Homo sapiens: one gene and its partners. The protein of the gene in region 7 purifies or fractionates together with the protein of the main gene of each other region. This does not show direct contact. Each region holds a gene or a part of one and is shown on either strand. Other genes may lie near its edges.

Region 1 (3,500 bases), on a different chromosome or scaffold from region 7:
ATGGTGAAACCGTCTCTACTAAAAATACAAAAAAATTAGCTGGGCGTAGTGGCAGATTCCTGTAATCCCAGCTATTCAGGAGACTGAGGCAGGAGAATTGCTTGAACCCGAGAGGCGGAGGTTGGAGTGAGCCGAGATCGTGCCACTGCACTCCAGCCTGGGCAACAGAGCGAGACTCCTTCTCAAAAAAAAAAAGTAAAATAAAATAAATAGTATACAATTCATTGGTTGGTTATTTACTATTGGGTAAAAAAATAAACAAACAAAAAGTATACAATTGGCTGGGCATGGTGGCTCATGGCCTGTAATCCCAGCACTTTGGGAGGCCGAGGCAGGTGGATCACCTAAGGTTAGGAGTTGGAGACCAGCCTGGCCAACATGGTGAAACCCCATCTCTACTAAAAATACAAAAAATTACCTGGGTGTGGTGGTGGGCACCTATAATCCTAGCTACTCGGGAGGCAGAAAGCAGGAGAATCACTTGAACCTGGGAGGCAGAGGTTGCTGTGAGCCAAGATCGTGCCACTGCACTCCAGCCTGGGTGACAGAACGAAACTCCATCTCAAAAAAAAAAAAAAAAAAAGTATACAATTTAGGGGTGGGTGTGGTGGCTGATACCTGTAATCCCAGCCCTCTGGGAGGCCGAGGTGGGAGGATCACTTGAGATCAGGAGTTTGAGACCAGCCTGGCTAATGTGGTGAAACCACATCTCTATTAAAAATACAAAAATTAGCCAGGTGTAGTGGTGCGTGTCTTTGATTCCAGCTACTAGGGAGGCTGAGGTAGGATAATTGCTTGAACCCCGGGAGGCAGAGGTAATAATGAGCCGAGAGTGTGCCACTGTACTCAAGTCTGAGTGACAGAGACACTCTGTCTCAAAAAAAAAAAAAAAAAAATACAATTCAGTGAGTGTTAGTATATTCACAGGGTTCTTCAACCCTCATGACTGATTCCAGAATGTTTTCACCACTCCAAAAAGAAACGCCTTATCCTTTCTTGGTTACTTCCCATTTGTGATTTAGGCCTGTGTACTGGTGAAGCCATCCTCCTGGTTGAGTTAATTGTTATGTATGGTGTGAGGTAAAGGTTCAACATCATTGTTTTGCATGTGGCTATCCAGTTGTCCCAGCACAATTTGTTGACAAGACTGTTCTTTCCCCATTGAATCTTCTTGACACCGTTGTTCAAAATCAGTTGACCAAAGATGTGTGAATTTCTTTCAGGGTCTCAATTCCATTCCCTTCATCTGAATGTCTATCTTTATGCTAGCACCACTCTGTCTTGGTGCTACCTTACTCTAGCAGGAACCTTTTTATAAACAAGATGAGGGTCCAGCTTTACCATTGGAGGATATAAAAGAATATGGACTTTTTTGCCTAAAGCAGTCCTGTTTTTCCTCTTCTTTTTTTTTCTTTTTGAGACGGAGATTCGCTCTTGTTGTCCAGACTGGACAGACTGGAGTACAATGCACAATCTCGGCTCACAGTAACCTCCGCCTCCCGGGTTCAAGCAATTGCCTCCTGAGTAGCTGGGATTACAGGCATGCACCACCATATCTGGCTAATTTTGTATTTTTAGTGGAGATGGGGTTTTGCCATGTTGGTCAGGCTGGTTTTGAACTCCTGACCTCAAGTGATCCACCCGCCTAGGCCTCCCAAAGTGTTGAGATTAGGCGTGAGCTACTGCGCCCGGCGTTTTTCCTCTTCTTGCTAATATTTTACCTTTAAAAAAATATGGCCAGTGAATATCATTGAACTCACCAACTTACAACAATATAGTTGTTATATTGCTGTTATTCCTAGATAGTGAGTTCTTGAAGACAGGGTTTATGAGTTTGTATTTATGCCTCGCACAGTGTTTATTACATGAATTGATTTTTTTTTTTTTTTTTTTTTGGAGACAGAGTCTCCCACTGTCGCCCAGGCTGGAGTGCAGTGGCGCCATCTCAGCTCACTGCAAGCTCCGCCTCCTGGGTTCATGCCATTCTCCTGCCTTAGCCTCCCTAGTAGCTGGGACTACAGGCGCCCACCACCACGCCTGGCTAATTTTTTGTATTTTTAGTAGAGACGGGGTTTCACCATGTTAGCCAGGATGGTCTCTATCTCCTGACCTCGTGATCCACCCACCTCGGCCTCCTAAAGTGCTGGGATTACAGGCGTGAGCCACTGCACCCAGCTGCATGAATTGATTTTTTAAAAGATTTTTAAAGTGGACTCATTCTGTTACATGGATCCTTAATAAATGTTTAAAAAAATTCTAATTATATCAGGAAAAGTTATAGGGTGGGTCATAGTGTAATCACATCATTGGGAAGAGTAGGGGACAAATAATGTAGATAAAATGAGGTTTTTAGAGGCAGACTGGGGTGAGAGTAAAATGTTTGGAATAGGAGTGAGGGAAAGAATTGTTTTTCTACTTTTTTTTGAGACAGGGTCTCGCTGTCTCTCAGGCTGGTGTGTAGTGGTGCAATCACAATCACAGCTCACTGCAGCCTCAACATCCTGGGCCCAAGTGATGCTCTTATCATAGCCTCCCAAGTAATTGGAACTACAGGTGTGTGCTGCCATGCCTGGCTAATTTTCTTTTTCTTTTCTTTTTTTTTTTGAGACAGGGTGTGGTTGTGTCACCCAGACTGGAGTGCAGTGGTGCGATCTCGGCTCATTGCAATCTCAGCCCCCGGGCTCAAGCAATCCTCCCATCTCTTCCTCTCCAGTAGCTGGGATTACCTGGCTAATTTAAAAAAATTGTACTGGCCAGGTGCAGTGGCTCACACCTGTAATCCCAGCACTTTAGGAGGCCGAGTTTAGGAGTTTAGGAATTAGAGACCAGCCTGGCCAACATGGTGAAACCCCATTTTTACTGAAAATACAAAAATTAGCTGGGCATGGTGGCATGTGCCTGTAATCCCAGCTACTAGGGAGACTGAGGCAGGAGAATCGCTGGAACCTGGGAGGCAGAGGTTGCAGTAAGCCGAGATCACCCCGCTGCACTCCAGCCTGGGTGACAGAGTAAGACTCCATCTCAAAAAAAAAAAATTGTTTGTAGAGATGGGATCTCACTATGTTGCCCTGGTTGGTCTCCAACTCCTGGGCTCAAGCAGTTCTCCTGCCTCAGCCTCCCAAAGTGCTGGGATTACAGGCATGAGTCACTGCACCTGGCTGAAAATTGCTTTTCTAGATATGTCCCCTGTTATTATGAAAACAGCAAGCAAATATTCTCAATTTATGGGATAGTCTCCATTTCAAATATTCTCATCCACTGTAGATCTCGTGCTTAGATTCTTGGTTCCAAAATCATCATCTCTGCCCCTGTTGTTTACCAGGGAGTGTTTGCCATTGTGGAGATGGGGGACGTGGGTGCTCGAGAGGCTGTCTTGTCACAGTCCCAGCACAGCCTGGGAGGACATCGCCTGCGTGTCCGCCCACGGGAGCAGAAGGAGTTCCAGAGCCCGGCCTCCAAATCCCCCAAAGGAGCGGCCCCCGACAGTCACCAGCTGGCCA
Region 2 (3,500 bases), on a different chromosome or scaffold from region 7:
GCTGCGTCACACCACTCTGCGGGTCAAGGCATCCCTCACCGCCCTCCCCTGTCCTGTTATCCTGTGTCATTTTCTTTGAGGCCAGGGTGTGCCTGCCTTGGGGCCTTCCTAATCGCTCTCCCTCTCGTGGGAATGTCCTTCCTCAGATAACTTGAATGGCCCCTTGCCTCCTTCAGGTCTGATTTGGAATCTGCCTTTCAGCCCCTCCCTGGCCCCTTTTCCCATTTTCACCTGCTCCTTGCCCTGCTTCCCAAACTCCGTATCTTCTCTCCTGGCTTTGTCTTCTCTCCTTAACACCTGTCACCATCTCATATGCCATGTTGTATTTAGTTAGTTCGGTGAATACTTACACCTTCTGGGCAGGGATCCTTGTTTTGTATCCCCAGCGCCTAGAGCAGGGTCTGGCACACAGTAGGTGCTGGCACAGTGCATGTTTGTTGAACAAGTGCTGGTTTTACTGTTACTGTTTGTGTTTATTCTCTTTTGCTGCCCTTTGGGTCAGTCACCTCCATGAGAGGGCAGCGACTGCATGTGCATGGTCACTGCTCTTTACTCATGTTGAGTTCTTGTGCAGTGATAGGACAGCCCAGTTCCTTTCAAGGCTCCTAGGGTTAAAGGCAGTGAGGTCCTGCAGAAGAGCCTAGCACTGACTTCTGTCCCCATCTCTCATCTAGGAAGGAGATGACAAAATTGAGTACCGAGCCTGGAACCCCTTCCGCTCCAAGCTAGCAGCAGCAATCCTGGGTGGTGTGGACCAGATCCACATCAAACCGGGGGCTAAGGTTCTCTACCTCGGGGCTGCCTCGGGCACCACGGTCTCCCATGTCTCTGACATCGTTGGTCCGGTGAGTGAGTAGATGGAGAGTCAGGCAGGAGGTAAAGGCTGCCTCCCTTCTGCCAACCTGGAATATCAGGGTTTGACTGCTTGCCTGCGCTGTGTGACTTAGGGCCAGGCCCTTTTCTGTCACTGTGCCTGTGAGTAAAAGGAGTGGCTTGAACCAGATAATGTCATTCAACCTCACTCCTGGGTTCTTGGCCTCAAGGGAAGAGACGTGGGTGTGGGGTGACCAACCTTAGAGAGACAACGGGGAGTATAGATACCAGACTATTTGATTTGATGGGCCTCTTTAAAATTTTATGCTGCTAAAACCTGCTCTTCTGGTTTCTTTAGAAAGAACCAGGAGATCTTCATGGTTTCTGAGCCTGTATAGGCTTCCCATTTAGAGGGCCCCTGGCACCCACGTGTCCCACTCTGTTACCCTTTGTTACTTTATGTGTTTATAAGCTGTTAAGTGTAGTGCCTTAAAACCTCAGGCTTTGGCCAGACGAGGTGGCTCATGCCTTTAATCTCAACACTTTCGGAGGCCGAGGCAGGTGGATCACCTGAGGTCAGGAGTTCGAGACCAGCCTGACCAATATGGTAAAACCCCATCTCTACTAAAAATACAAAAATTAGCTGGGTGTGGTGACGTGTGCCTGTAGTCCCACCTACTTGGGAGGCTGAGACAGGAGAATTGCTTGAACCCAGGAGGCGGACGTTGCACTAAGCTGAGATCGCACAACTGCACTCCATCCTGGGCAACAGAGTGAGACTCAAAAAAAAAAAAAAAAAAAACCTCAGGCTTTAATCAGGCAAGTTACCTAACCCATCCAAGCCTCAGTTTACCTGTCTGGAACATAGACTTGTGAAGATTAAATGAGTTAATTTCTGAAAGGTGCTTAGAGCAGTGGTTGGCCCATTGTTACATCATCTCTGTGCCTTGGCTTCCTGGTTTTAAGCCTCTGTTGGGAACCTGGGCTCTCAGGCAGATGGGATTGGGTACTTTTGCTACTTGCTGAATAACTCTTGGCCAGTGACTTTATGTCTGGACCTCAGTTTATTCATGTGAAAAATGGACATGATAGCAATAGTCATTAGATGGTAGGGTTTTGATTTGGGGGTTGGAAGAGATGCTGTGTATAGTGTATGGGCCTAAAGTAGGCACTCCATGCATGAGAACTAGCATCACTGTTCATTAATTTTTAATTTATTTTAGGATGGTCTAGTCTATGCAGTCGAGTTCTCCCACCGCTCTGGCCGTGACCTCATTAACTTGGCCAAGAAGAGGACCAACATCATTCCTGTGATCGAGGATGCTCGACACCCACACAAATACCGCATGCTCATCGGTGAGGGGTCTGGGGGTGGCCCCGGTGGGGTAGGACAGGCCACCGCAGGCTTCTGGAAGAAGCCAGTGGATCTCTGATTCGGATGGAGTTGGAGTGGATGAGCAGACCTCTTGAGTCTGCAGGAATAGAAAGGGGTAAGGGGAGCTAGGTGAGGTTGTGGAGGTGGCAGCTTGGCTTCAGAGTCTTGGAAGCCACCCTTGGAGGGCCAACCTCTTCTCCTTCAGTCTCCTCCCCATCTCCTAGGTCTCCTGTACTTCCTGCCTCTTGTATTTATTACACTACCCCTCCATAAAAAGCCTCCTTTTGGGGGTCCTAATCATTGTCTGGTGAGAGCATATCCCAGAAAACTAAGCATGGCTTGATCTGGAGGGGCCCACTGTGAATATTAATTACTTTGTTTAAAAAAACATTCAAAGATATAATATAAAAGTTGAAAAGCCTTATAAACCACCGCCAGAAGTAACTGATGAGAACAATTTGATGTCTGCTTTTCCCAGGTTTTAAATAATCAGTTTTCATTATACCACCTTTTCATTTTTTGAAAAGTCACACTGGCTTAAAAACATTATTTTTCATTCTGCTCCTTTTTCTTTCTGTGTTTTATTTTTCCCATGCACTCATACCATCCCCTTTGTTCTGCAACTTGTTTTCATTTCACAGTCCTGCGGACACTCTTGCCTATAAGTGCTCACTCACTCTTACTTGTCTTTTTGATGACGTGTCTGTCTCCCCACCAGACCTGGGAGCGTCTCGAGGGCAGGGTCCGGGTCTGACTCGTCTCTATGTCCCCCACGCCCGGCCCAGGGCTGGCCACAGAGTAGGTGGCAACCATGGTTTACAAGAAGAGTGGATGAATGATGTGACTGTGGGTTTTGGACTCATCTTGGGACACTGGAGGGAGGGGGACCAGTGGAGGTGGGGAGTGAAACTGGAGGCAGGGAGAATCTCCCAGGAACCTGCTGGTGATGGGCATAGGCCCCATGGGAGGATCTGGGGTGATCCCTGTGACTCCAACTTTTAACTGCTGCTCCTTTCTCCTTAGCAATGGTGGATGTGATCTTTGCTGATGTGGCCCAGCCAGACCAGACCCGGATTGTGGCCCTGAATGCCCACACCTTCCTGCGTAATGGAGGACACTTTGTGATTTCCATTAAGGTGCGGGGTTTGGAAGAGTCTAAGATGGGGTGGCAGTGTTCTAGGGAGGTATCTTCTCTATCTGTATCTGTCAAATAGCCACCCAAAACAGAGGGGCCAAGTCTGCAAAACTATAGCTTTGGATTTAAAGAGGCAGGAGAGTGCAGCGGTCAAGTGCAAAATTGAGTCTGACCATC
Region 3 (3,500 bases), on a different chromosome or scaffold from region 7:
GATCATGCAGTATATGGTAGAATGGCAACTTGAGGCCAGTTCTTAGGTGTGTTTGTTGTCCTTATTCAGAATGGAACAATGTGGTTTATTGTACAAAAATTTAAAAATGAATGTCGAAAAGTAGAAATTATTACCCAAATCTCACCCTCTGTGGTTGTTTGCTATGTGATCTTCCAGACTCACATATACATGTAGATAATTTTTTTTTTTTTTTTTTGAGACGGAGTCTTGCTCTGTCGCCCTGGCTGGAGTGCAGTGGCGCAATCTCGGCTCACTGCAGGCTCTGCCTCCTGGGTTCACGCCATTCTCCTGCCTCAGCCTCCCAAGTAGCTGGGACTACAGGCGCCCACCATCACCTCCAGCTAATTTTTTGTATTTTTAGTAGAGACGGGGTTTCACCATGTTAGCCAGGATGGTCTCGATCTCCTGACCTCATGATCCGCCTGCCTGGGCCTCCCAAAGTGCTGGGATTACAGGAGTGAGCCACTGTGGCCGTCCTCACATGTAGATACTTTTTTAACTTTTTGCTTTTAACCACTTAAGATATTGTGAACTCATTTCCAAATTAACATATATTTGCTTTTAACAGCTACATTTCCACTGGAGTTACGTACCATTTGTAATCTATTCCTGGAAATTTAGATGGTTACAACTGTTTTTTATTTTATTTATTTATTTATTTAGAGACGGAGTCTGACTCTGTCACCCAGGCTGGAGCGCAGTGGTGTGATCTTGGCTCACTGCAACTTCCACCTCCGGGGTTCAAGTGATTCTCCTGCCTCACCCTTCCGAGTAGCTGGGACTACGGGCGCACACCACCACGCCTGGCTAATTTTTGTATTTTTAGTAGAGACGGGGTTTCACCATGTTGGCCAGGATGGTATTGATCTCTTGACTTCATGATCTGCCGGCCTTAGCCTCCCAAAGTGCTGGGATTACAGGTGTGAGCCACCACGCCTGGCCTCAACTGTTTTTTATTATAAATAATGCTGTAGGCCGGGCGCGGTGGCTCACTTATGTAATCCCAGCACTTTGGGAGACTGAGGCGGGTGGATCCCGAGATCAGGAGATCGAGACCATTCTGGCTAACAAGGTGAAACCCCGTCTCTACTAAAAATACAAAAAATTAGCCGGGTGTGGTGGTGGGTGCCTGTAGTCCCAGCTACTTGGGAGGCTGAGGCAGGAGAATGGCGTGAACCTGGGAGGCGAAGCTTGCAGTGAGCAGAGATCGCACCACTGCCCTCCAGGCTGGGCGACAGAGCGAGACTCCGTCTCAAAAAATAATAATAAATAAATAAATAAATAAAGCTGTGTACAGCCTGGCCAACACTTTGGGAGGCCGAGGCAGGCAGATCACAAGGTCAGGAGTTCGAGACCAGCCTGACCAACATGGTGAAACCCCATCTCTACTAAAAATACAAAAGTTAGCCGGGCATGGTGGCACATGCCTGTAATCTCAGCTATTCAGCAGGCGGAGGCAGGAGAATCGCTTGAACCCACGAGGCGGAGGTTGCAGTGAGCCAAGATCGCGCCACTGCACTCCAGCTTGGGTGACAGGGCGAGACTCTGTCTCAAAAAAAAAAAGAAGAAAAAATCCTTTATTCTGGTTTTCCCGTAGCTTCCACAGATCCAAAAGGGTCAGGTTTATTTCCAGTAGCCAAATATTCTGCCATCTGGACTGAGATATCTCCTAGGTTGAGGTTATTATAGAGGTAGTAACCTGATTCTTTCTTCCTTTTCTCCTTCCCCTTTCCTCCTTTGCCTCCCTCCTCTTTTCTTCCTCTGTATTTATTTTATCATTCCTTCTTCCTTTCTTATTTCTAGGCCATATAGGCCAGCCAGGGAAAGGTTAGTAAGGGGTGACATTGATCCCTATGACCTGAGGAATATTCTTCGACCTTGAGACATGCCGATTATGCTCTTCTTTTCCTAGGATGCTCACAACTGTATTCCTGAGCTGGACAGTGAGACAGCCATGTTTTCTGTCTACGATGGACATGGAGGTAACTTTAACAGATCATATTGGTAACATTCTAGGACCCCAATTCCAGACGTTCCAGGGCAAGAACAGGTCCCTTTGTTCATTTACTTTCCAGGGTCTGGCCCTCATTATCATTTCCTGCGTGGTGCTGTTTTTCTGTATTCTGTCATTCTTTTTTCCCAGTAGGTACTGTATTGGTTTATAATCTCACCAGGACTTGTTTTAATCCAAAGAGCCTCTATCTTTTTTTATTTTTATTTTTTAAAATTTTTAGGCTGGGCACGCGGTAGGTCACACCTGTAATCCCGGCACAGTGGATCACGAGGTCAGGAGTTCGAGACCAGCCTGACCAATATGGTGAAACCCCATCTCTACTAAAAATACAAAAATTAGCTGGGCGTAGTGGTGGGCGCCTGTGGTCCCAGCTGCTCGGAAGGCTGAGGCAGGAGAATCGCTTGAACCTGGGAGGTGGAGGTTGCAGTGAGCCAAGACCATGCCACTGCACTCCAGCCTGGGCAACAGAGCAAGACTCTTGTCTTAAAAAACAAAAAAGTGTACCCAGTTGAGCTGATTCTTTATCTTTTTTTCACTGGAGAACTAAGTATACAGGTGAGAAAAGACGAGATATTTATACCCGAGAGAATTGATGGTGAAATCCATTTTTTTGGATCAGAACTTCCCCAAACAGTGTCCTTCAAATAGGGTTCAGGGGTGCTAAGATATTTATCCCCTCAACCCTTGGGGTTCACTCCAGTATGGCATATAAATATTGTATCACTTTCTATGTGTGGGGAGCAGTGCTCCAGGTGACCTTCCTTCCTTTCCTTCTAGGGGAGGAAGTTGCCTTGTACTGTGCCAAATATCTTCCTGATATCATCAAAGATCAGAAGGCCTACAAGGAAGGCAAGCTACAGAAGGTCTGTCTGCTTACACCGCCCATTCCTCACTTGTGTAGGCTTTTCCCTTGTTCTCTAGCCCTTGGGCTTTTCCTTTCTTTTTGTCCTCTAGCTGCTGCTGCTTATTTACTCTTGAAGAATTCTGTTCCTAAAACGAGCTTATTGGCCGCCTTTTAGACTTGCCTTATTATTCCTAGGCCTCTGAGCTGTTTTTATCTGTGAGTGTCTCTTAGTGTGGTGGCTCACACTCTTAATTTGTATTCCATCCTTGTGCTCAGGATTGTATATAGGGAGTTCATTTTGTACTAGTCTTAGACTATTTTGCTTATATTCAGGCTTTAGAAGATGCCTTCTTGGCTATTGACGCCAAATTGACCACTGAAGAAGTCATTAAAGAGCTGGCACAGATTGCAGGGCGACCCACTGAGGATGAAGATGAAAAAGAAAAAGTAGCTGATGAAGATGATGGTGAGTGTGGCATCCCTTGTTTGAGGGGAAATCAGCATTTTAAGAAATATTCTTTAATATTACTTATCAATTCTAAGATAGGATGGCTTTCTAGGGACCTGGGGAGTCCTTATGTTAAAGAAACCTATGATGTTCTCCTGCATTGTATGTGGTTA
Region 4 (3,500 bases), on a different chromosome or scaffold from region 7:
GTGAGCCAAGATCACACCACTGCACTCCAGTCTGGGTGACAGAGTAAGACTCCGTCTCAAAAAAAAAAAAAAAGTTAATTAGAAAATATGGCTTAATTGTTGAGCCATAGTGAATCTTGAGTAATTAAAGCAAAAGTCCTCAAGTGGAAGCTATTCTAAAGGATATATTAGATATATGAAATGTTAGATGACTTCACATCTATTCAGTGCACTGAATTAGTAATTTAGTTTCTAATGGGCCGGTGAATATTTCCTGTAAAACTAAGACTGTATCTTTAAGGATTTTTCCCCCTTTCTTATAAGACCGCATCTTAAAGGACTTTTTTCCCTTCCGTTGTAGAGACCTTGTACACAGACAGACGGCTAGTGCAGTGGTACAGCACATGTCACTTGGGGTTTATGGATTTGGTTGTGAAGATTCGCTGAATCACTTGTTGAACTATGTATGGCCCAATGTATTTGAGACATCTCCTCATGTAATTCAGGCAGTTATGGGAGCCCTAGAGGGCCTGAGAGTTGCTATTGGACCATGTAGAATGTTGCAATATTGTTTACAGGTAAGTTAAAGATTTTTTTTTTAATCGGTGATTTTTTTTTTTTAAATAATACTTTAAGTTCTGGGATACTTGTGCTGAACGTGCAGGTTTGTTACATAGGTATATATGTGCCATGGTGGTTTGCTGCACCTATCAACCTGTCATCTAGGTTTTAAGCCCTGCATGCATTAGGTATTTGTCCTAATGCTCTCCCTCCCCTTTCCCCCCACTGCCTGTAAGTTAAAGATTTTTAAAAGATTACTTAGCAAGAAAAGTAGTGTATTGAATTAAGTTACTTTTCCTGATTATCATTAGGGTATATTGTGCCATATGGTAGAACAATTGTGTGGTGACAGGGGAGTGAGTTTTGTCTCTTCCATTGCAGCTTAAGAGCAGTGTAATTAGTAGGTTCCCCCCCCCCCAACTCCCCAAGGGAAATAATTTTGAATCATATCTTTATGTTTTCTTAATTTTGTTAAGGTTATGTATGTTCTTAAAAATTGAAATAATGTAACCGTTCAATTATTTTAGGGTCTGTTTCACCCAGCCCGGAAAGTCAGAGATGTATATTGGAAAATTTACAACTCCATCTACATTGGTTCCCAGGACGCTCTCATAGCACATTACCCAAGAATCTACAACGATGATAAGAACACCTATATTCGTTATGAACTTGACTATATCTTATAATTTTATTGTTTATTTTGTGTTTAATGCACAGCTACTTCACACCTTAAACTTGCTTTGATTTGGTGATGTAAACTTTTAAACATTGCAGATCAGTGTAGAACTGGTCATAGAGGAAGAGCTAGAAATCCAGTAGCATGATTTTTAAATAACCTGTCTTTGTTTTTGATGTTAAACAGTAAATGCCAGTAGTGACCAAGAACACAGTGATTATATACACTATACTGGAGGGATTTCATTTTTAATTCATCTTTATGAAGATTTAGAACTCATTCCTTGTGTTTAAAGGGAATGTTTAATTGAGAAATAAACATTTGTGTACAAAATGCTAATTTGTGTGTGTTTTTTGAACATGACTTGTAAAATGCGGAACTTTGATAAAGTATTGGTTTATGTGGAATAAGTGGCTTAATTTCATTTTCTGTCACATGGTTTATAGAAAGTAGTTAGCTGAATAAAAACTATATAAAGTGATGGCATCTTTGTCAAAATTCCATTGTTGTGTTAATAATGACAGCAAGAAGAGTAGCCTCAGGGGATGTTCCCCTCAAACTAGCACAACCATTCCATCATCGTAGAAAAGTAGCACTTTTGCTAAACTGTCTTGAATATTTTGTACTTACATAGCGCCTTTCATCTCTTGATTTCTCAAAATGCTTTATGAACACATTTAAAGAAAGTGGTTTAAGTCTTGTCCAACACTTGACAGGTCTGCTGTGTTTAGCAAGTGAGGAATTTAACTTTACTTCAAAACTGCTTTCTGCCTATTAGGAGTGAGGATACCTAAGTAATGCTGATAGAACAGGACAATGTTGGGCTTTTCTCCATGTTATAAGCCACTACTCAGCAATGCATCAGTAAATACCTATTCACCCACTGTATGCCAGCCACTGTGCTTATATGCAGGGGATGCAAAGGTGCATGAGACCTGCCCTCTACCTTTAAGAACAGTATAATGGAGAAGGGGAGACAAACCTTGTGACAGATTCCTTATGTACTGTGATAATACACAGTGGCAGCAGCTAAAATGTCTAGGTTTGCTTAGCTTTGTATTCAGTAATAATAAGTTGATCTAAGAGTTCAGCATAAACTGAATGAAATGCCATTTAATGGTAGAGGAACCAAGCATTAAGGCAGTACTACACTTAATTTTTTAAGCAAATATGTAAAGTATATTTTCAAACTTTTCTAATGTTATGGCCCCAAATTTCTTAGTTTTGGCCTTTTTACTACCTATACTATTTTTACTGTTTTGTTTTGTCTCCATGTGGTAGTACTTCTGTGAACTCTAAAGGGAAAAAAAATTCTGCAAGCAGCATTAGTATATAACTACTACTGTAAGTAAAACTGCCTATTGACACTTTAGGAGTTCCTGCTTCAGAAGCTTAGTTAAGAAACAGCTTGTGGCCGGGTGTGGTGGCTCATGCCTGTAATCCCAGCACTTTGGGAGGCTGAGGCGGGCGGATCACGAGGTCAGGAGATCGAGACCATCCTGGCTAACGCGGTGAAGTCCCGTCTACTAAAAATACAAAAATTAGCCAGGCGTGGTGGCGGGCGCCTGTAGTCCCAGCTACTAGGGAGGCTGAGGCAGGAGAATGGCTTGAACCCGGGAGGCGGAGCTTGCAGTGAGCCGAGATAGCGCTGCTACACTCCAGCCTGGGCGACAGAGACTCCGTCTCAAAAAAAAAAAAAAAATTGACTTTCAACAAATTGATAGTGAGCATTAAGGGTTTCCAAGTTGGATTTGTAACTCCTCATCATTCCTTGTATGACAACTTTCTGAATATATGTCACTATGTAGTAAAATTAAACACTCCAAACTCATCTTTCTGTTGTTAGAAGTTTTCAGCGGTACTTCCATGCAACTTTAAATCTCACTGCTCTCTATGGTTGATGTCAAATGACCTTCAGTAATGACTGAGAATTGAATACAAATAGATTACAAAGCCAAAATTTGATGTTAAATGACTCAGGAAATTTTAGTTGTATTTTCAATTCAAGTACTTAGTAGCCTACGTTTGCTTGGCCTCTGGTTCTTTATGGAAAATAGGCTTTGTAGTGGCATTGTGGAGCAAAGGAGACTGTTACACCTTAATTAACTTTTTTTACTGATGCAAATAATTTGAGGATAGAGAGGAGGGAAGTAGTGAAAGCTATGACCTAAAACATTGGGACCAAATAGAGGCTCACAGATATTTGGATTATTTTATGTGCTTATTATTAAATAAGGAAAGCATTTTGTGATATGTGGAAGACGCTATGTGAAGTTTTACCTAT
Region 5 (3,500 bases), on a different chromosome or scaffold from region 7:
TGGTTTTTAAATATAGGCAATGGTCACAAAGCTGGACTTTTCACAGCTGTGTCAGACCAAACTAAATATTTCTTGAAAACATAATTTACAGGGCATTTGTATAACCTTGCTTATAAGTATCTTACAAATTTTGCACTTTAGCTATATAAATTGTACTCTTTAATAGGCATTAGTAGGATGGTGGGGGTTCTTTTGGTTATATGTTAAGCCACCAAACCTCTTGGCTGGAAAAGATGTAGCAATACCATTTAAAGAAGTTTGCACGAGTTGTATACAGATTTCAGAGAATTCCATCCTATTCTAAAACTTCATGGAAATGAATTTGGAATCTCACAGGGAAGTAAACAGCTCCAGTCTTTTTTTCACTGATAATCACATGTGACAGATGTGTTTACGTAGAGGAACAGGAACCTTAAAAAAAAGTTTTTTACTTTCACATGATTCAACAGTTATTACACAGTGCCTGAATGTAGGTCTAATTGTTCTCTAAGATACCACTTTTAAAGCTAAAAAAGATGAGTTTTATGTGGTGTTTGAAAGAGCGTTATATGTCTTGTAGCATTATATATTTTGGATTCTTATACCAAGCATCCCTGTCTTTGCAGTTGCCACCAACTACTTGGGAAACAAAAGAAGTGTCCTGTGTATGTAGCCAGCCTCCTCCTAGAAAGATAGGAGTCTACTTTGAGAAGTCTCCCTACCTCTTTCAGTGCCTGTTGGCACAAAGCAAAGTGGTTTCACCTGAAGAGAAGACAAAGTTGATCCTTAGTTTGCAAAATCCACCTAACCTTTGCTAAGCATGAACCTCATTGCTTTCTCTTTAATGTTAGTGAAGCTGGATGTCAAAATGGTACCAACCAGTATTTTCTTTGCTCTCTTCTAGATATGGTTTTGTGGAGTTTGATGATCTGCGTGATGCAGATGATGCTGTTTATGAACTGAATGGCAAAGACCTTTGTGGTGAGCGAGTAATTGTTGAGCATGCCCGCGGCCCACGGCGAGATGGCAGTTACGGTTCTGGACGCAGTAAGCATTCAAAGGGCATACTTTTATCAGTAACGTGCTTTTGTTATCATGCTAATTTTTAAAGTAATTAATTGATATTACATTTAAACGTATTGATGTTTAAGCTATTTTGTAAATTATGTATCTTTTTTAAAAATGTAGAATTACAAATAAGCCTTTGATAATGTTTAATTTTAATTAAACTAATGACAATTTCTTGTTTATAATACTTTATAAATATGTTTAATGATGTGTGTTTGTGTTGTTGTTGTTTTTTTCTCTGTAATGCAATTGTTTAACATAGATTTAACAAAGACCTCAATGTTTTAATTAAAAGAATCCTTTGAGGCTAAGATGACTGCCTGTTCCATTTGCTGACCTTGGGTTACCTTTCCATGCGTGGCTCTTTGAACCATTGTGGCCCTTGGCTGACCAAAAACAGGAAGCCATGTGACGACCGCAACCTTTCCCCATTAGACCTGGGTGGTGAGGATCCCAAGGGTTAGACACAGATGAGATTAAACTGAAATAGGTGCCTGAAAATCTTTTTTTTTCCATATAAAATATTCACAAAATGTTTAATCACTGTGAGTAACACCAGTAACTGATTTAGTAATTTGGTTACTTATTTCTAAATTGTTAAATTGTTAATAGTTTTAAATTTATGCATGTTAATCTTAAATGCAAATATTAATGAATATGTATACTTACAACTTTTTAAATTAAATGTTTATATTTAGCTGATTGCTTCTTTAAAAATCTATTTTAGAATTAAGGGTGGGAATAGAGTTAAAACGTGCTATTGTTTGGGGTGGGGGTAAATAATATATTTAAGGGGGGGTGTGTGCTGTGTCATTTTTTTTCCTTTTCTTCCACTGAAATAATCTTATTTATTTGAACCTTCCAAAGGTGGATATGGTTATAGAAGAAGTGGCCGAGATAAATATGGCCCTCCTACTCGCACAGAGTACAGACTTATTGTGGAGAATTTGTCAAGTCGGTGCAGCTGGCAAGACCTAAAGGTTTGGGCCCCATTAACCTTTTGGGGTAAGGTTGGGCAGGAGTTAAAGTTGGGAAACAGGTAGATTTGTGCAGGCCCAGGCATACACAAAATACAGTGTTATATGTTTGAAAGCCTGCACAGAGCTGGAAATAATTAAAGTGCCATATGAGTACAAAATATATCAGAATTATATTCCTGCTATACATTGTGGGACCATCATTCTAAGGACACATTTGTGAGTTTGGTTTGGTTTGGTTTGGTTTGGTTTGGTTTGGTTTGGTTTGTTTGAGATGGAGTCTCGCTGTGTTGCCCAGGCTGGAGTGCAGTGGCACCATCTCTGCTCACTGCAGCCTCCGCCTCCCGGGTTCAAGCAATTCTCCATCTCAGCTTCCTGAGTAGCTGGGATTACAGGCACCCGCCACCATGCCCGGGTAATTTTTTTGTATTTTTAGTAGAGACGAGGTTTCACCATCTTGAACTCCTGACCTTGTGATCCACCCGCCTCAGCCTCCCAAAGTGCTGGGATTACAGGCGTGAGCCACCGCGCCCGGCCTGATTTTGTTTTGTTACAGAGTCTCTGTTGCCTAGGCTGGAGTGCAGAGGCACAATCATGGCTCAGAGATTGGTTGTCACTATGTTACCCCGACTGGTCTCGAACTCCTGGCCTCAAGTGATCCTTCAGTCTCAGCCTCCTCAAGTGCTGACATGACAGAAACCTGGCCCAAATGTGTGATAACGAAATTTCTCTCTGTAAAGAATGTTTGAAACCCTGTCTCTACTTAAAAAGATACAAAAATTAGCCGGGCGTGGTGGTGGGCACCTGTAGTCCCAGCTACTTGGGAGGCTGAGGCAAGAGAATTGCTTGAACCTGGAAGGTGGAGGTTGTAGTGAGCCAAAATCATGCCACTGCACTCCAGCCTGGGCAGTAGAGCAGGACTCTGTCTCAAAAAAAAAAAAAAGGGTTACAAGAAGATGGCAGTGTAGCTACTCACCAGTCAATAAAATGGTTGAAACCATCAGTGTTTCCTGCAGCATTTGCTATAACATGCAAATTCACATCAGCTTCAGTGTGTATCCTTACTGGTGAAATTGACAATCTGACCCATGTTTTTTCATAAGGTTTTTGATGGAATATTTGTCCTGAAAGAGGTTTGGTGTCAAGAATTAAGATTCAGTGCTAATGTTGGCCATCCAGTGTACTGGTTCCAGCTTTTTTTTTTTTTTGAGATGGAGTCTCGCCCTTTCGCCTAGGCTGGAGTGCAGTGGCGCCATCTCAGCTCACTGCAACCTCCGCCTCTGGGGTTCAAGTAGTTCTGCCTCAGCCCTCTGAGTAACTGGGATTACAAGTGCATGCCACCATGCCCGGCCAATTTTTGTATTTTAGTAGAGGCGGGGTTTCACCATGTTGACCAGGCTGGTCTCGAGCTCCTCCTGACCACAAGTGATCCACCTGCCTTGGCCTCCTAAAGTGCTGGGATTACAGGCGTGAGCC
Region 6 (3,500 bases), on a different chromosome or scaffold from region 7:
ATCAGAACAAACCAAGGCTGTGGTAGATGGAGGTGCCATCCCAGCATTCATTTCTCTGTTGGCATCTCCCCATGCTCACATCAGTGAACAAGCTGTCTGGGCTCTAGGAAACATTGCAGGTACTTGGACTTGAAGTTCTTTTGACTGAATGTATCTAATCGTAATTAGTTGGAAGAAAGGCCTTGTTATAAGTAATAGTGACTTTGTCAAGTTTTGAGCTTGCTTTCAAGCCCTTATTAGGAATGAAAGTGTCGTCTTTACAAAGGCAGCAGAGGGCCATCTAAGTAAGTTTGGGAGTTTTTGCTGGTGCATTCAGTCACTGAAAATTGATGGTGTTGGACAAGGTAATAAAATTAATCTTGCCTCGGCCGGGCATGGTGGCTCACGCCTGTAATCCCAGCACTTTGGGAGGCAGAGGCGGGTGGATCATGAGGTCAGGAGATTGAGACCATCCTGGCTAACACAGTGAAACCCCACCTCTACTAAAAATACAAAAAATTAGCCGGGCGTGGCGGCGGGCGCCTGAGGCTGAGGCAGGAGAATGGCTTGAACCCAGGAGGCGGAGCTTGCAGTGAGCCGAGATCGCGCCACTGCACTCCAGCCTGGGCGACAGAGAGAAACTCCGTCTCAAAAAAAAAAAAAAAAAAATTAATCTTGCCTTTTTTTTCAGGTGATGGCTCAGTGTTCCGAGACTTGGTTATTAAGTACGGTGCAGTTGACCCACTGTTGGCTCTCCTTGCAGTTCCTGATATGTCATCTTTAGCAGTAAGTTACTAACATGAGTAAAGTTACTCACTTCTTCATTCTAATTTCCCCCATCTTCTCAAAAGACAGAACCTCTCATTGCCTATTTTTTTTCCCCCAGTGTGGCTACTTACGTAATCTTACCTGGACACTTTCTAATCTTTGCCGCAACAAGAATCCTGCACCCCCGATAGATGCTGTTGAGCAGATTCTTCCTACCTTAGTTCGGCTCCTGCATCATGATGATCCAGAAGTATTAGCAGATACCTGCTGGGCTATTTCCTACCTTACTGATGGTCCAAATGAACGAATTGGCATGGTGGTGAAAACAGGAGTTGTGCCCCAACTTGTGAAGCTTCTAGGAGCTTCTGAATTGCCAATTGTGGTAAGTTATTTACTTGTAGATTAGGACATAAGTATAAGAAGCATGATCAGGGCTGGGCGTGGTAGTGGTGGCTCACACCTGTGTAATCCCAGCACTTTGGGAGACCAAGGCAGGTGGATCACCTGAGGTCAGGAGTTCGAGACCAGCCTGGCCAACATTGTGAAAGCCCATCTCTACTAAAAATACAAAGAAATTATCTGGACATGGTGGCACGTGTCTGTAATCTCAACTACTCGGGAGGCTAAGGCAGGAGAATTGCTTGAATCTGGGAGGCAGAGGCTGCAGTGACCCGAAATCGTGCCATTATACTCCAGTCTCTCAAAAAAAAAAAAAAAAGCATAATCAGTTGATAGTAATATTGAAATATTGCCTATTTCAGGCCATGATGGGCCTCTTGTTAAAACTTTTAGGGTATAGAATTTCTAAAGTGCTGGGGAAAAAATAACCAGCATCAACATATTTTTTTTTTTTCAGACTCCTGCCCTAAGAGCCATAGGGAATATTGTCACTGGTACAGATGAACAGACTCAGGTTGTGATTGATGCAGGAGCACTCGCCGTCTTTCCCAGCCTGCTCACCAACCCCAAAACTAACATTCAGAAGGAAGCTACGTGGACAATGTCAAACATCACAGCCGGCCGCCAGGACCAGATACAGCAAGTTGTGAATCATGGATTAGTCCCATTCCTTGTCAGTGTTCTCTCTAAGGTAACGAAGTCTTAGGATTTAATCAAGTCATTTTTAGTATTTATAGAAAGCTGTGCTTGATAAGCTTCTTCACGTGCAAGAATCTTGGGTTCTACTAGGAGTCCTTTGCTGAACAATACCCAGTAACCCCTTTTACTTAAGGTTGGATAGAACCTTGGTACTTTCAGTCATTGTTTTTGTGAAAAAGTACTCTTGGAATCTTATTTGTGCAACTGTTCTGAAATAAAACCATTTCCTTATGTTTAATAGGCAGATTTTAAGACACAAAAGGAAGCTGTGTGGGCCGTGACCAACTATACCAGTGGTGGAACAGTTGAACAGATTGTGTACCTTGTTCACTGTGGCATAATAGAACCGTTGATGAACCTCTTAACTGCAAAAGATACCAAGATTATTCTGGTTATCCTGGATGCCATTTCAAATATCTTTCAGGTAAGTCCTATCAAGGTGGCTTTGTTTGAATTTGGACTTGATAATAATCAGTTTACTATTTAGACTTGGGGGAGGGCAGCTGTAAGTTTACTCACTAGTAAGCCACAGAATCAGAAAGCCTGTTTATGTGGCCACCCCTTTGATTAAAAATGAGGCAGGCATTATAAAAGATACAAAAGAGACGACAAGTGGATGGTGTGACCTGAATCGGAGTCAGGCGCTTATGTGGACTCATCACACCTGTTTACTTGGTTGATTTAATTTCCCAATTTCATACCGATTTTTGGTGACATTAAATTTGAATGACTTGGCCAGGCACGGTGGCTCATGCCTGTAATCACAGCACTTTGGAAGTCCGAGGTGGGTGGATCACCTGAGGTCAAGAGTTCGAGACCAGCCTGGCCAACATGGCGAAACCCTGTCTCTGCTAAAAATGCAAGAATTAGCCATGTGTGGTGGTGGGCGCCTATAATCCCAGCTACTCAGAAGGCTGAGGCAGGAGAATCGCTTGAACCCGGGAAGCGGAAGTTGCAGTGAGCCAAGTTTGTGTTATTGCACTCCAGCTTGGGCAAGAGTGAAACTGTCTTAAAAAAAAAAAAAAAAAAAGTTGAGCCTTCAATAATGGATGCTAGCGTATCTGTTACTGTGTATAAATAATTTGTCAGTATGTGGCCAGTATTTCTTCTTCCCCTCATCTAATCCCCTAAGTTATTTTGAAGCAAATCTGTTTTTTTCATCTATAGATATTTATGTATCTCTTTAAGGTTGAAAATTTAAAGGAAAACTAACCTACATACCATTCCATATGTCCAGTAAATCCTTAATACCAACACACATTCTGTTTGGGGACGTTTAGTTTAGCACTCCATAGGCCATCTTTGCCCTTAGACACCTTGACTACACCTTGTGATGACATAGGATGCTTTATGAAACAATACACCCCTGTTCCCATAGCAGACCAGTTGAACTGGAATGTAGTGTTGTTTTAAAAGTTGCCCGCATGATTTTGATACATAGAAAAGGTTGGGAGCTACTACTGATTGTAAGATCTTTGGCTCCAGTTGAAGTAGTGCTAAAAGCAGGTACAGATCCAATCACATTGAGTGTCAACAAAATATAAAATGGACATAAAACTATGATAGGCTTGATGAAGGAATTGTTAGGTGCTTATTTCTGCCTGACGTATCAATATTCAAATTATTGATGTTTTCTTCATTAAAATAAAACCAGA
Region 7 (3,944 bases):
AAAGAGGCACTGAAAAGGTAATTGATTCATTTTTGTTTTTTTAGACTAAACTTTCCTTGAACGTTTAATGCCAAAGTCAGTACTAGGTAGTCATAAAATGATCGTAGTTTTGCTATTACCTAACAAAAATTTACTGAGTATATACTATGTTTTAGGTTGGGAGGGAAAAGTCATTTCTCTAGATTTCAAAATGTATGAAATTGAATTATTTTTCTCACAAGGATACATAATTTTAATTTAGATTTTTTCTTTTTAACCAGTGATATACTTTAACAGTCTTGATATCTGGCTGCTATGTCTTGTAGTTTGGTGATAAATGATTATAGAAAGATTATCTTCATGGTAAAAACACAATGTATTCAGAATGTAGTTTATAAAGATAGGAGGCTCCATAGATAAGATGGAGAGACTTTATGCATAGTGTTTCCTATAGCAACGATAAGCTTTATTCCTCTTTCTCTAAGATAGTAGGTAATACAAACAAGCTTAAATAATTTAAAGCAAGCCCCTCTTTCAGTAATTTTATTTTTCTGTCACTTAAAATGATACTGGTCTGATCAGTAGTGGAATCACACCTGGGAATAGCCACTGCTTTCCAGCTTAGGCAACATAGCAAGACCCTGTCTCTTAAAGTTTTAAAACAAATTATTATACATGTAAAGGTTAGTACATTTTAAAAGTGCCTGGAACAAAGTAGGGTACATAATACCTAATATTAACTACAGTCATCAAAATTTAGAAATGCATATTATAAAAGTGTAAGAAAAATGAAAAAGATGAACTTCCTTTTTTGTTAGGTGAGCAAGTTAAAAGTCCTATTTCCTGTAATCTAAGCTTGTTGATTTGGGGTCATATTTATACAAAAAAAAAAAAAAACTAACTTAAAAAGCAAGTGTTTTTCATCAACCTTCTTCTACCATTGCCCAGAATTTATCGTGATTTGTGGGGAGGTGTGAATTTTGTTTCCTTGAAAGGAGACTGAACTTGCTGTGGTGGGGAAGCCTCCTGTGCTTCCCAAGGATTCTTTCAGGGATATGAGGTGTTAATTTCAAAGCCAGTTTGAGATTATTCAAATGTTAAAATCACTAATCCAGAACTGGTAACTGAAGTGAAGTCACTTTGTTAAATAATACCCTTCTAATTGGTGTGAAATTTCATTTAGATTTTATATATTTTTAAAACTAGGAATAAACCTTTTATTTTTCATTTTAAAAATTTAGAGCTCATCTTTGACTAGGAAGTTCTTAAATTGAGTTGGAACACAACTCAGTTATGACGTCAGGATTGTCGTTAACGCAATTTGTTAAGTAGCTATGGAAGTAGCCAGTTGACTCTTGTCGTGAAATGAAACGGAGGTTAACACAGAAAGTAAGTGCTGTGCAAAGCTTGTTGGAAAAAAGGAGTAGACCATAATTAGTTTAGCCAACTTGTTTGCTAGTTAATTCAGCTAATGATTTTTGAGTGCCTTGTGTTAGGCACCATTCTTGGAACCTGGGGTAAAGCCATGAATCACAAAGTCCCCTACTTTCATGAAGCTAACAGATAAACAATATAGTTTAGGTGATGACCAGTGCTAGACAGAAAAATAAAGTGTATTGCAGGAGAGCATTGTAACAGCTGAGGTTGTCTGGAAAACTCTCTGCAAAGGTTATGTTACAGCCAAGACCCATAAGGAAGTGAGCGAGTAAGCCCCAGTAAAGTTTAGAAGTATAGCTTTTCAGGCAGAAGCAAAGAAAATGCAGAGACCGGAAGGGAAGACTGTCAGGGACTAGAAGACCAGTGTAGTTGGAGTACTAGGAGCATCTTAGTAAGTAATGGAAATTGCTTAGAAAAAAAACTAGTAGAACATCAGTGAATCTGCCAAAAGGTTACATAAATACCTTACTGACCTGACAGCCCAATATTTCTACAATAGTGTTGTATTTGGCCCATAATTGAGTAAAAGTAAAAAAATTCTGGCTCTTAATATTCACATTATGGGGCCAGGCACGGTGGCTCATGCCTATAATCCCAGCACTTTAGGAGGCTGAGGCTGGTGGATCACTTGAGGTCAGGAGTTGGAGACCAGCCCGGCCAACATATTGAAACCCTGTCTACTAAAAATACAAAAATTAGCCAGCTGGCACGCACATGTAATCCCAGCTACTGGGGAGGCTGAGGCAAGAGAATTGCCTGAACCTAGGAAGTGGAGGTTGCAGTGAGCCAAGATGGCGCCACTGCACCACAGCCTGGGCAACAGAGCAAGACTCTGTCTCAAAAAAACGAAACTAAAATAATATATTAAACACAAGTAAATTAAATTAGTGATGTATCACAAAAGATCAAGAAGATGAAGGAAAGGTCTGCCAAAAGGGATGTCTCCTATTCATTTTGCTAGCCTAAATCTTTGTAGTATGCCCTATGATTTTGAACACATTGGTAAAAATAGATAACAGCTACTAGAGACAGAATGAAGCTTATTTCTCTTTGGCTTTTAAAACATTTGAATTCTTTTCTGTAAAAATTACTGATACTCAGCAGGTAAAGGCAGAATTTATAAAATTTGTGAACAGCAGCATGGGTATGATAGAGTTCTAAACATCTTTGGATTTTAATTCACCTCAATGATGAATAATAGGCTTTTAGTTTAATCTAAAAGTGAATTCCTTCCAATTGCCATATGGTACCAAACACTTTAAAACTATTTAAATGAATACTCATTAGAATCTATATTTTTTAGAGAAAAAGATTTGCATTTACTCCAAAGTTTAATATTTTAACTTTTTTTTCTCAAGGAAGCTTTTGGAATATTTTAGACATTTTAAACAGTTTTCTTTTTTATTCTGTGTAATTTCATTTGCCTTCCTTAAAAATATTCAACAATTTATGTAAGGGTGTAAGAAATAGGAAATAGTAAATAGCCTTAATAACAGATTTGATTTGTAATTGATTTGACCTGAGCATAATTATCTCATTTGTCATCTTCTCGCTGTTTTTAAAAAATTTCCATTTAAGCTGATAGCTGTGAAATTTTTTCTAGTCATAGTTTTGTGTGTGTGTGTGTGTGTGTGTGTGTGTGTTTTGAGTATCCAATACATTTTAATTTTTGATTTATTTCTCTTTAGTTAATCACCAAAGCTGAAAAGATTAGACTGGCAAAGACTCAACAAGCGAGTAAACATATAAGATTTTCTGAATATGATTGAAAAAAAAAACAGTTCACCTCTTAATACTTCACAAGATACTTGAGCTGTTCTTGGGAGATTCACTTTTATTATGGTAGCACTGCATAATTAATGTGTTTTTAATTAAAAGAAATATCTTTGTTCCTCAACTTGTAAATAAGACTTTTTTCTAGAGACAAATATGATGTATACCACAATTTTTCTTAAACATTTTATTTGTTGAAATTATCTTAGATGTCAGTGTCAGGTGATTTAGTAAATAAATGTGTTTTGAACATTATTTGGAAATGTGTTGATTTTGTTTTTATACTGTAAAAACAAAACATAATTGCAAAAATACTACATGAATATATATAAAGTTTAGAGAAATGTTTAACACTAAACTCTCACTGTACTTAGTTTGTAACTTGCAATACCTTCAATACCTTTTCATGTTGATTTATACAGACATGTTTAATAGTTCATTCTATTCATTCCACTTTGCCTATCTGAGCTTCCATTGAACAATAGACCATAGGGATTGGTTCTAATTAAAATGTTAAATTTTTAAAAGAATTGAGTTTCTTCATAAATCAAGTTAAATGTTTTGTTTTGGTTAGACAAAATAAAATGTATTAGGTGCTATTAGCACAAGAAGGAAAAAATAGAGGAATCAACCTTAGGCAGAACTGAGCTCTGTTATTTTATTCAGGAAAATCATGGGAGTGAAGCATTTAAAGCCTTCCCAGAATTGAACTTAACTGGGTCCATACAGGACTGTCATCTTAATCTCTTATCAAA

What was found.
Region 1: the proteins of LARP7 (region 7) and TUT1 purify together in Homo sapiens (affinity purification with mass spectrometry; 4 studies listed by BioGRID and IntAct, with this or other methods). This does not show direct contact.
Region 2: the proteins of LARP7 (region 7) and FBL purify together in Homo sapiens (affinity purification with mass spectrometry; 4 studies listed by BioGRID and IntAct, with this or other methods). This does not show direct contact.
Region 3: the proteins of LARP7 (region 7) and PPM1G purify together in Homo sapiens (affinity purification with mass spectrometry; 3 studies listed by BioGRID and IntAct, with this or other methods). This does not show direct contact.
Region 4: the proteins of LARP7 (region 7) and SF3B1 purify together in Homo sapiens (affinity purification with mass spectrometry; 4 studies listed by BioGRID and IntAct, with this or other methods). This does not show direct contact.
Region 5: the proteins of LARP7 (region 7) and SRSF4 purify together in Homo sapiens (affinity purification with mass spectrometry; 3 studies listed by BioGRID and IntAct, with this or other methods). This does not show direct contact.
Region 6: the proteins of LARP7 (region 7) and KPNA2 purify together in Homo sapiens (affinity purification with mass spectrometry; 3 studies listed by BioGRID and IntAct, with this or other methods). This does not show direct contact.

Annotation. Positions count from the first base shown.
Region 1 is NC_000011.10:62,581,524-62,585,023, reverse strand, and holds part of TUT1 (speckle targeted PIP5K1A-regulated poly(A) polymerase), read left to right. Parts: intron 1-3,322; coding exon 3,323-3,500. UniProt on the Homo sapiens protein: Poly(A) polymerase that creates the 3'-poly(A) tail of specific pre-mRNAs. Localizes to nuclear speckles together with PIP5K1A and mediates polyadenylation of a select set of mRNAs, such as HMOX1.
Region 2 is NC_000019.10:39,836,380-39,839,879, reverse strand, and holds part of FBL (rRNA 2'-O-methyltransferase fibrillarin), read left to right. Parts: intron 1-674; coding exon 675-845; intron 846-2,036; coding exon 2,037-2,169; intron 2,170-3,211; coding exon 3,212-3,324; intron 3,325-3,500.
Region 3 is NC_000002.12:27,385,592-27,389,091, reverse strand, and holds part of PPM1G (protein phosphatase 1G), read left to right. Parts: intron 1-1,933; coding exon 1,934-2,003; intron 2,004-2,812; coding exon 2,813-2,898; intron 2,899-3,212; coding exon 3,213-3,345; intron 3,346-3,500.
Region 4 is NC_000002.12:197,390,029-197,393,528, reverse strand, and holds part of SF3B1 (splicing factor 3B subunit 1), read left to right. Parts: intron 1-340; coding exon 341-557; intron 558-1,067; coding exon 1,068-1,226; 3' UTR 1,227-3,500. UniProt on the Homo sapiens protein: Component of the 17S U2 SnRNP complex of the spliceosome, a large ribonucleoprotein complex that removes introns from transcribed pre-mRNAs.
Region 5 is NC_000001.11:29,157,901-29,161,400, reverse strand, and holds part of SRSF4 (serine/arginine-rich splicing factor 4), read left to right. Parts: intron 1-605; exon of another isoform or gene 606-839; coding exon of another isoform or gene 840-883; coding exon 884-1,026; intron 1,027-1,390; exon of another isoform or gene 1,391-1,537; intron 1,538-1,914; coding exon 1,915-2,027; intron 2,028-3,500. UniProt on the Homo sapiens protein: Plays a role in alternative splice site selection during pre-mRNA splicing. Represses the splicing of MAPT/Tau exon 10.
Region 6 is NC_000017.11:68,042,235-68,045,734, forward strand, and holds part of KPNA2 (importin subunit alpha-1), read left to right. Parts: coding exon 1-119; intron 120-670; coding exon 671-765; intron 766-865; coding exon 866-1,129; intron 1,130-1,603; coding exon 1,604-1,837; intron 1,838-2,086; coding exon 2,087-2,269; intron 2,270-3,500.
Region 7 is NC_000004.12:112,654,143-112,658,086, forward strand, and holds the end of LARP7 (la-related protein 7), read left to right. Parts: coding exon 1-17; intron 18-3,104; coding exon 3,105-3,185; 3' UTR 3,186-3,444; downstream 3,445-3,944. UniProt on the Homo sapiens protein: RNA-binding protein that specifically binds distinct small nuclear RNA (snRNAs) and regulates their processing and function.